3 separate regions of the Homo sapiens genome follow, and all the other regions are linked to region 2. Evidence: fine-mapped expression QTL. A gene starts in region 2. Each other region holds a variant in brackets. All regions are shown on one strand. Distances are from middle to middle. Region 1 overlaps ERN1 (endoplasmic reticulum to nucleus signaling 1). Region 2 holds the start of ERN1 (endoplasmic reticulum to nucleus signaling 1). Region 3 overlaps ERN1 (endoplasmic reticulum to nucleus signaling 1).

Evidence for each region.
Region 1: its variant is fine-mapped to the expression of ERN1 in whole blood (INTERVAL, PIP 0.96).
Region 3: its variant is fine-mapped to the expression of ERN1 in whole blood (TOPMed, PIP above 0.99).

What each region holds. Positions count from the first base shown.
Region 1 is chr17:64,055,374-64,058,217 of GRCh38, reverse strand. It overlaps ERN1 (endoplasmic reticulum to nucleus signaling 1), which reads left to right. Exons shown (of 22, transcript NM_001433.5): 12 at 225-416; 13 at 2,270-2,543. Among named protein-coding and RNA genes, the nearest start is that of ICAM2, 36 kb to the right of the region's middle. RefSeq lists a silencer at 1,206-1,255 and enhancers at 1,566-1,685, 1,474-2,217, 2,218-2,844. The variant C/T (reference allele first, on the strand shown) is at 1,701.
Region 2 is chr17:64,128,732-64,131,231 of GRCh38, reverse strand. ERN1 (endoplasmic reticulum to nucleus signaling 1) reads left to right here and starts at 1,088. Exons shown (of 22, transcript NM_001433.5): 1 at 1,088-1,256. The coding sequence starts at 1,203. RefSeq lists enhancers at 188-237, 288-487 and silencers at 908-1,037, 1,128-1,577.
Region 3 is chr17:64,051,552-64,054,395 of GRCh38, reverse strand. It overlaps ERN1 (endoplasmic reticulum to nucleus signaling 1), which reads left to right. Exons shown (of 22, transcript NM_001433.5): 15 at 1-146; 16 at 1,025-1,124; 17 at 1,417-1,616. Among named protein-coding and RNA genes, the nearest start is that of ICAM2, 32 kb to the right of the region's middle. The variant G/A (reference allele first, on the strand shown) is at 1,627.

The DNA.
Region 1 (2,844 bases), 73 kb after region 2:
GAATAATGATAACCTCACTGCAAAGATGCATGGCCTCTCAAAGCAATTGCTTTGAAAGAGGCAACAGTTATCTGGCTACATGATCTTTGGTGAGCTTAAAACAAATAAAACCCCCTGCAGTACAGTCATATCCTTGTAAACAGTGATTGCTTCTCTTGATTGCTGGCCTCATCTGTATCTGGCTAGAAATTTTGCAGTGATGTCGCAACTCTCTCCCATGCAAGGTTATCAACCTGGTTGACCAGACTTCAGAAAACGCACCTACCACCGTGTCTCGGGATGTGGAGGAGAAGCCCGCCCATGCCCCTGCCCGGCCCGAGGCCCCCGTGGACTCCATGCTTAAGGACATGGCTACCATCATCCTGAGCACCTTCCTGCTGATTGGCTGGGTGGCCTTCATCATCACCTATCCCCTGGTAAAGCTCAACAATTCCCCTTTGCCATCCACCTATTTCTGGGGCTTCTCTGCCTGTCGCCTCATGTCAGTGAGATCCAGACAAAAACAACCAGCACATTTCTTTCCCCATTTAAAAGTCAGTGTTTGTTGGCCGGGCGGGCACAGTGGCTCACGCCTGTAATCCCAGCACTTTGGGAGGCCGAGGCGGGTGGATCACAAGGTCAGGAGATCAAGACCATCCTGGCTAACACAGTGAAACCCTGTCTCTACTAAAAATACAAAAAATTAGCCGGGCATGGTGGCAGGGGCCTGTAGTCCCAGCCACTCTGGAGGCTGAGGCAGGAGAATGGCGTGAACCCGTGAGGCGGAGCTTATAGTGAGCTGAGATCACACCACTGCACTCCAGCCTGGGCGACAGAGCAAGGCGACAGAGCAAGACTCCATCTCAAAAAAAAAGAAAAAAAAAGTCAGTGTTTGTTTATCTTCAAAAACATAATTAAAGAGACACTAGCCTCCCAGAAAAGGACAATTTTGTTCCTAAATCTTAGTGTTTTTCAGCTAAGAGCTGATTTATAAGCCTTGCTCAAAGATGATTTTGAATAGTTATCTGTATTTTTAAAGAATAAGGATAATAGATGAAGACCTTTCCTCCCTTAAAAACTGCCATTAGAACTTCTGCTGGGGAGAAGAACCAAAAAAAGAAAAAAGAAGCTGCCTGTGAGATCAGCTTGTGTGAAAAAGGCAGTGTGGCCATCCCTTTACTTCCTAGTTGGAAATGAGCAAGTTCTGTAGCAGAACAGGCCATGGGTGGGATGAAATATGTGAGGGGCATGGTCCTTCAGCAGGTTGCTCAGAGCATCGAGATGCTGTTACCTGAGAGCTCAGGAAGCTAATGACCCGCCCAGGAATGGGAATGACAGACTCTTTATGGCACTCCCCACTGGCACGTCTGCACCTGATAGTTTCACTTTTCACCTCACTCAGTCCTATGAGGTCATTATTATTGATCCCTTGTCCACAAAAGAAGGAAGTAGACCCTGAGAAGCTAAGTAACTTTCCCCACGGGTACCCAGCTAGTAGACGGCATTTCTAGGACTCCACCCCATGGTGGAGAGAAGAAGAGACGACTCCCTGGTGGGTTGGTGGCTCACAGAAGTCCCTTCAGTCCACCTCCTGCACATGGGTAGGGATGATCACAGATCGCTGCTACTTCAGATAATGACAGAATGAATCCTTCAGAGTATTTGAGAGGCATGTGGCCTCGGGGAAGGCAGTGGGATGAAAGGCGGAAGCAGGACCTCAG[C/T]CAGGCTCACCATGTGTCAGCCCCACTGCCACCTCCTGGCTATGTGTATGCAGATGTACTCTGCATACCTAGAATACTAGAGCTTCCTCACCTGCCCCTCTGGATTACTGAGTGTCTGTGCGCTAGCCTCTAGCCAACACACAGACACGGTGGGTGGCGAACCTGGGGCTTGCTCTCACCCACCACTGGCTCAGCCATGCTACCTGTGCTTCCTGTTTGGTTTCACCTTTGCAACAACTCTCAGACTTTCATGAAAATCACAGAATTTTAGAACTGAATGAAACTGGCACAGCCCTCAACCTAGGGCACAGTCCCTCCCCTGGTGGCCATCCAGCCCCTCCTAGGGTTGGGGAGTGGGCTGTATGAGCAAGGATCTAACTAGTCGGTGGAAAGACGTCCAGTCATCGAAGCAATTCTGCTTCCAGGTGCCTTCTCACTGGTCTCTTTGTGCCCTGTTGGGTCACATAAAGTACACATGCTCCCTCCGCCACTGGGACCTGTCCCTTCCCAGCTGCTTGTTTCCCTGTGGGAACAGCTGCCCTTGTCTGGATGTGGGTTTCTCTTCCCAGAGCATGCATCAGCAGCAGCAGCTCCAGCACCAGCAGTTCCAGAAGGAACTGGAGAAGATCCAGCTCCTGCAGCAGCAGCAGCAGCAGCTGCCCTTCCACCCACCTGGAGACACGGCTCAGGACGGCGAGCTCCTGGACACGTCTGGCCCGTACTCAGAGAGCTCGGGCACCAGCAGCCCCAGCACGTCCCCCAGGGCCTCCAACCACTCGCTCTGCTCCGGCAGCTCTGCCTCCAAGGCTGGCAGCAGCCCCTCCCTGGAACAAGACGATGGAGGTAAAGCCAGTTGCCATCTTGGTGCTATTTTATGTTTTATTCGAGCACCTCCTGAGAAGTCCAAGGAGTCTCCATAAGATTGTAAACTACCATTCTCAGGGGTTCACTGTGTTCTCCTCTAACTTCCACTCTGGGGGTCTCTGTGGGAAGGCTTCTGCCCCATCCCTTGGCATCTCCCCTTCAGAGGGCCTTCTGGGAACCACCCTGGCCATCCTCCTGTCTTTCTCCACAAGGGCTGGGCGTCGCGGCTGACCAGAGGTGAGCTGCCCATTGGGCTGAAGAGAGTTCCCAGGGCCAGCCG
Region 2 (2,500 bases):
ATTCTTTTCCTTCAAACCTGAAAAATCTTAGGCTCTCATATAAGCAAGTCAGGAAAAATTAGAGAATTTCATAGCCGTTTTCTTTTTCTCCTAGGATAAGTTAGATACCTTTCCCTGGGCTCCAAATCTCAGTTTACTGTCTTTCCTTGCAAAAGACGTGTCCTCCCTACCCATGTCCCTCTCAGTGGAGGCCAGTGCCAGTGACCAAACAGCTGCCGAGCTCTTTAACTCTAATTAGTACTCCACACCCTCACATAGACCTTGCAGGAGGCCTCAACCCACCCACTCCCTCCAACGAGTTGTGACGCAGACCATCTCAAACTTCACATCCACACGTGTCACATCAACGCACGTGACACAAGTGGCCGAAATGGTTTCCTCCTTATAATTTTTGGTGAGTGACTTGGCCGTGGTTCATTCCAAGCGGAAGTGATGGCTGGTGGATATGACTTGAGGGGAATTCCTGAGGGCAAGGAAAAGGAAGAAAGGGGCCCCAGAGAAGACGAGGCACAGCTGGAGAACCCTAGGGCTGTGAACACTGCGACTGCCGCGCGGGGCAGCTGCGCCGTGTTTGCTGGAAGCCTCCGGTAGCTGCTGAAACCTTCGCTCCGGAGGTCGCCTCGGTAAACCTTGCGGATGATTCCACCACGGCGGAAAGACGAAAAGGAGGCTTCTAGGCACCCGGGACCGCCCGTGTCCCGCCCTTTTCCCCGATGAAGTCTGACGCGGCAGGTCCCTCGGCAGGGTTAATGGGACGGCCTGGTGGGGCATTGCCGGTCTTTCCCAGCCACAGACAAGCTTCGCGCCTCGATCCCCCAGCGCCCCCAGACGCTGGATGCCGAGGCCTGGTCCTTTACAGCCGCCGACGCCTCATGAGCGAAGCCAGCCAGATGCCAGCACCGCCTTCGGCCCCGCCCCGAGCCAGCCCCTCCCACATCCCCGCCCGGGGCACGCCCTCGGCCCGCCCCCATCTCCGCCCCGAACACGCCCCTAGATTGGCCCCGCCCCGTCCCCGCCCGCAACTCCGCCCCGACCGGAAGAAGCCGCGGCACCCAGCGCTTATAGGGCCGGGAATGGGGGTGCCGCCGCTGCCTAGTCAGTTCTGCGTCCGCTGAGGCTCGGTCACCGCCTCGCTGTCGTCGCGGCGCCCCCGCCCCGTCCTCTGTCCGTACCGCCCCCGGAGCCAGGGCCGAGTCCTCGCCATGCCGGCCCGGCGGCTGCTGCTGCTGCTGACGCTGCTGCTGCCCGGCCTCGGGGTGAGTGACCGGGGAGCGTGGGGTGGAGGACAGCTCGCGACGGCCGGGTCGGGGCCGGGGCAGCGTCGCGGCGCCGGGGCTGGAGTCCGAGCTGGGAGCGCGACGGCGGCGGCCAGATGCCCCGTGAGCCCAGCCGTGGGAGGCTCGGGCCGGGCGTAGGAGGCGGCACCGGGCCGGGAGAGCTTCCCTGACGGGAGTCGCGGCCCCACCGAGGCGTCGGCCGCCCGAAGAGCCTCCCAAGCCAGCGCGGCTGTCACGGGCAGCGGCTCCCCGGACCCCGCGGGCTCGGGCGCAACTTCGTGGCGTCCTGCACGGCACTTGGGGGTCCCAGAAGGCCCCGGCCTGAGGAGGCCGCCCACCTGCGGGACCCTCCTCCTCGCGGGCGGGCGCCGGCGCTGCCTGGCGGGGGCCGCGGAGGAGCCGAAAGGGCGTTGGGATCCAGGGGAAGGGTCTGTCCTGCGCTTCGAATCCTTGTTTGAACTTTTTAAAAATTCGAAAACTTTGGGGAACGAATGCAACAGGGAGTAAGGACTCTCACCCGAGAGCTGGCTTCTGCCACTTGCCCTGCCGGTTTCTTGGTACTGGGAGGCTGCAGGCTTCCTTCTGTGCACCGAGACTTCCTTGAGCAAGTGGAGCTGTGGGAATTGCACTCTTGGAAGATCCCGCATGGGTTCGAGGTGAGGCCGCTTCAGAACCTCAAATGAAAGACTGTCTCCTCGTGGGAGAGCACCTGGGGCCATCAGAAATGTCTTTTCATCTTTTTCTGGAGGAGACGAATGATAGGGCCTGGTTTACATTCATTTAACTCTTTATGACCTTCACTCAGCTGTGGATTTGGGGGCACTTTGTGGGAGACTTGGCTTTTTTTTTTCTTCTGGTTGGAAGAACCTAAATTAGCGAATGTTTTTCACAAAATGTATTGTTCAGGATGTGAGCGTGGCAAATTTGTCCGTGTTCTGTTTAATGACCTCTTTAAAGGTACTGTGTACTCTTTAATAGGGATATCATGTACCAGGTGTCCCAGTAGAGCACTGACATGTGTGTGCCTGAGTGCCAGCCACCGTGTGAACTCTTTGGAGGTTTTGCATTTTAGGTAAATAACTGTCTGTACTCTTGGAGTAACAAGAATTTGGAAACAGGAGAAGTAAATAAATAAGGTTGCCTTTTTCAAATTCAGGGTTTTTTTTTTTAAATAAAGGAAAATTTGTAGACTCTTTATAATAGAACTTGTGGAAGTTAAGTTT
Region 3 (2,844 bases), 77 kb after region 2:
CCGAGTGTTTTAGCTTCGCAGACCGTGAGGTCCAGCTGTTGCGAGAATCGGATGAGCACCCGAACGTGATCCGCTACTTCTGCACGGAGAAGGACCGGCAATTCCAGTACATTGCCATCGAGCTGTGTGCAGCCACCCTGCAAGAGGTGGATTTATTTTTTTTATTTTGTTAACTTTATTAAAGTCATAGCACTTTGGGAGGCCAAAGTGAGCAGATCACGTGAGCTCAGGAGTTTGAGACCAGCCTGGACAACATGGTGAAACCCCATCTCTACAAAGAAACCAAAAATTAGCCAGGCCTAGCGATGTGTTCCTGTAGCCCCAGCTACTTGGGAGGCTGAGGTGGGAAGATTGCTTGAGCCTGGGAGATCAAGGCTGCAGTAAGCAGTGATTGTGCCACTGCACTCCAGCCTGGACAACAGAGTGAGACCCCGTCAAATTAAAAAAAAGTTACAGTGAATTGTACTAATTTTAAATGTAATAGCTTGATGAATTTTGACAAATGTCTATACCCATTTAACCACATACACAGTCAAAATGTGGAGCATTTTTATCCCTCTGGTTGTAACAGGGTGGTCCCCCCAGCATGCCTGGGCAGTCTGCTTGCAGTTGGCATGTCTCTCCCTCTTTGCCTCCAGGAAACCTGGACAGTTGTTCTTTCCCTCTTCAGTCATGGCTGGTGTGGGCTTGGAGGATGCCAGTTGGTAACTCCAGGCTTTAAGATCATCCAGCAAGCTCCTTTTGCTCATTTTCCAGGCTCACTTTGAAACCATATCAGTATCATTTGGATTCCTTTGTAGGTTTACTTATATGAGGCAATGAACTTGAGTTTCTTGCCTTCTTATCTTTCTCATTGTAAATTAGTAGATTTGGAGGTTTGCTCCTTGCTGGAAAACATGGATTTAGACAGAATGTTGTCAGTAAAACTTGCCATTTCTTTCTTAAAATGGTATCAAAGAAAGTGAGCCGAGGGGCCAAGTCCTGAGGACTGTGTGCCGTGACCTTGCTGTCATGTCTTTTGCAGTATGTGGAGCAGAAGGACTTTGCGCATCTCGGCCTGGAGCCCATCACCTTGCTGCAGCAGACCACCTCGGGCCTGGCCCACCTCCACTCCCTCAACATCGGTGAGAGGCTGCACTTTACCAGGCCAGCGGCCCGGGTGGGGAGAATCAGTGGCCCAGGTGGGGCTAACCAGTAGCTCGGGTGGGCCTTGCTTCTGTTCAAGCTCTTGGCTATATCACCAGTAGCAAAGATGAGTGGTGTAAGAATTTGAGGAGGAATCCGACATAGTTGAAAATCAGAACATTTGGAGGTGGCGGCAGGCATATTGGGAGTCTGACGAGGACACATTCCCCATTGGAGGAGGCCTGGGGTTGCTCCTGGTAAGCATTGGACTAATCTGGAGTTCTCTGTTAGTTCACAGAGACCTAAAGCCACACAACATCCTCATATCCATGCCCAATGCACACGGCAAGATCAAGGCCATGATCTCCGACTTTGGCCTCTGCAAGAAGCTGGCAGTGGGCAGACACAGTTTCAGCCGCCGATCTGGGGTGCCTGGCACAGAAGGCTGGATCGCTCCAGAGATGCTGAGCGAAGACTGTAAGGAGAACCCTGTGAGTAATA[G/A]GCTATGGCCCTTTGAAAACTACAGAACCAGCCCATTGTATCTTCAGGAGTAGAACCTTTAAATTCCAGGTTTGGGGGCTGGTGCCCGTGTAGCTGGAGAATGGCATTCCTTTCACCAAGAGCTTCTGTGTGAACATTCTGTGTCATCTCATGTTCAGCTGATTAAAGGGGCAAATGTGGGCAATTATCTATTTTTTTTCCCTATTCTTCCAATCACTTGTTTTTTTTTTTTGTTTGGTTGGTTGGCTGTTTTTTTGTTTTTTTTGTGTGACAGAGTCTTACTGTCACCCAGGCTGGAGTGTAGTGGCATGATCTCAGCTCACTGCAATCTCCACCTCCCAGGTTCAAGCGATTCTCCTGCTTCAGCCTCCTGAGTAGCTAGGATTACAGGTACCTGCCACCACACCCAGCTAAATCAATCACTTTTTAACCCCTTTTTAATTTTGGTAAACTGGGAAGTCAGGGCTTGCTTAGCGTGAGCAAACTTCAAGTTTTCATTATTTTTAAAATTTTGTTTTTGTTTTCTCAACTTATTTTGATAATTTTTAGACATAGAGAAAATTAAAAGAAAAAAATTTTTTAGAAGTGCGATCTCGCTATTTTGCCCAGGCTGGTCTTGAACTCCTGGGCTCAGGCTTAGCCTCCCAAAGTGCTGGGATTGCAGACATGAGCCACAGCATCTGGCTGAAAGAATGTTAACATGAATACCTGTGTATCTCCACCTAGATTCAACATTTGTTAATACTTTTGCCACATTTGCTTTATCTTTACCTATTACTGAACCATTTGAATATAAGTAGCAGGCATCCTGGCCCTTCATCCCTGAAGACCTCAGCACGTGTCTCCTAAGGAATACATTGTGTTTCCAACCACAATACCATTATCCCACCTCAACAGTTAATACTGTTTCTATCCATCATCTCATATTCAATCCATATTCAAATTTCCCCAATTAGTCCCCAAATGTCTTTTATAGAGTTGGTATTTTGCTACCTACTGGGTTTTGATACCTACTGGGTTTTATATACCAGGATGGAATCAGGTGTCTTGCGTTACATTTGATTCTGTCTCTTGGAATTTACAAATCTTTCCACCTATATTTTGTTCCATGTTGAAGTTCCATTTTGAAGAGTCCAGGCAGTGGGTTATAGGATGCCCCATTCTGGTTTGTTTGCTTTTTTCCTCATGACAGCGTTGAACATTTCTCTGTATTCCTTG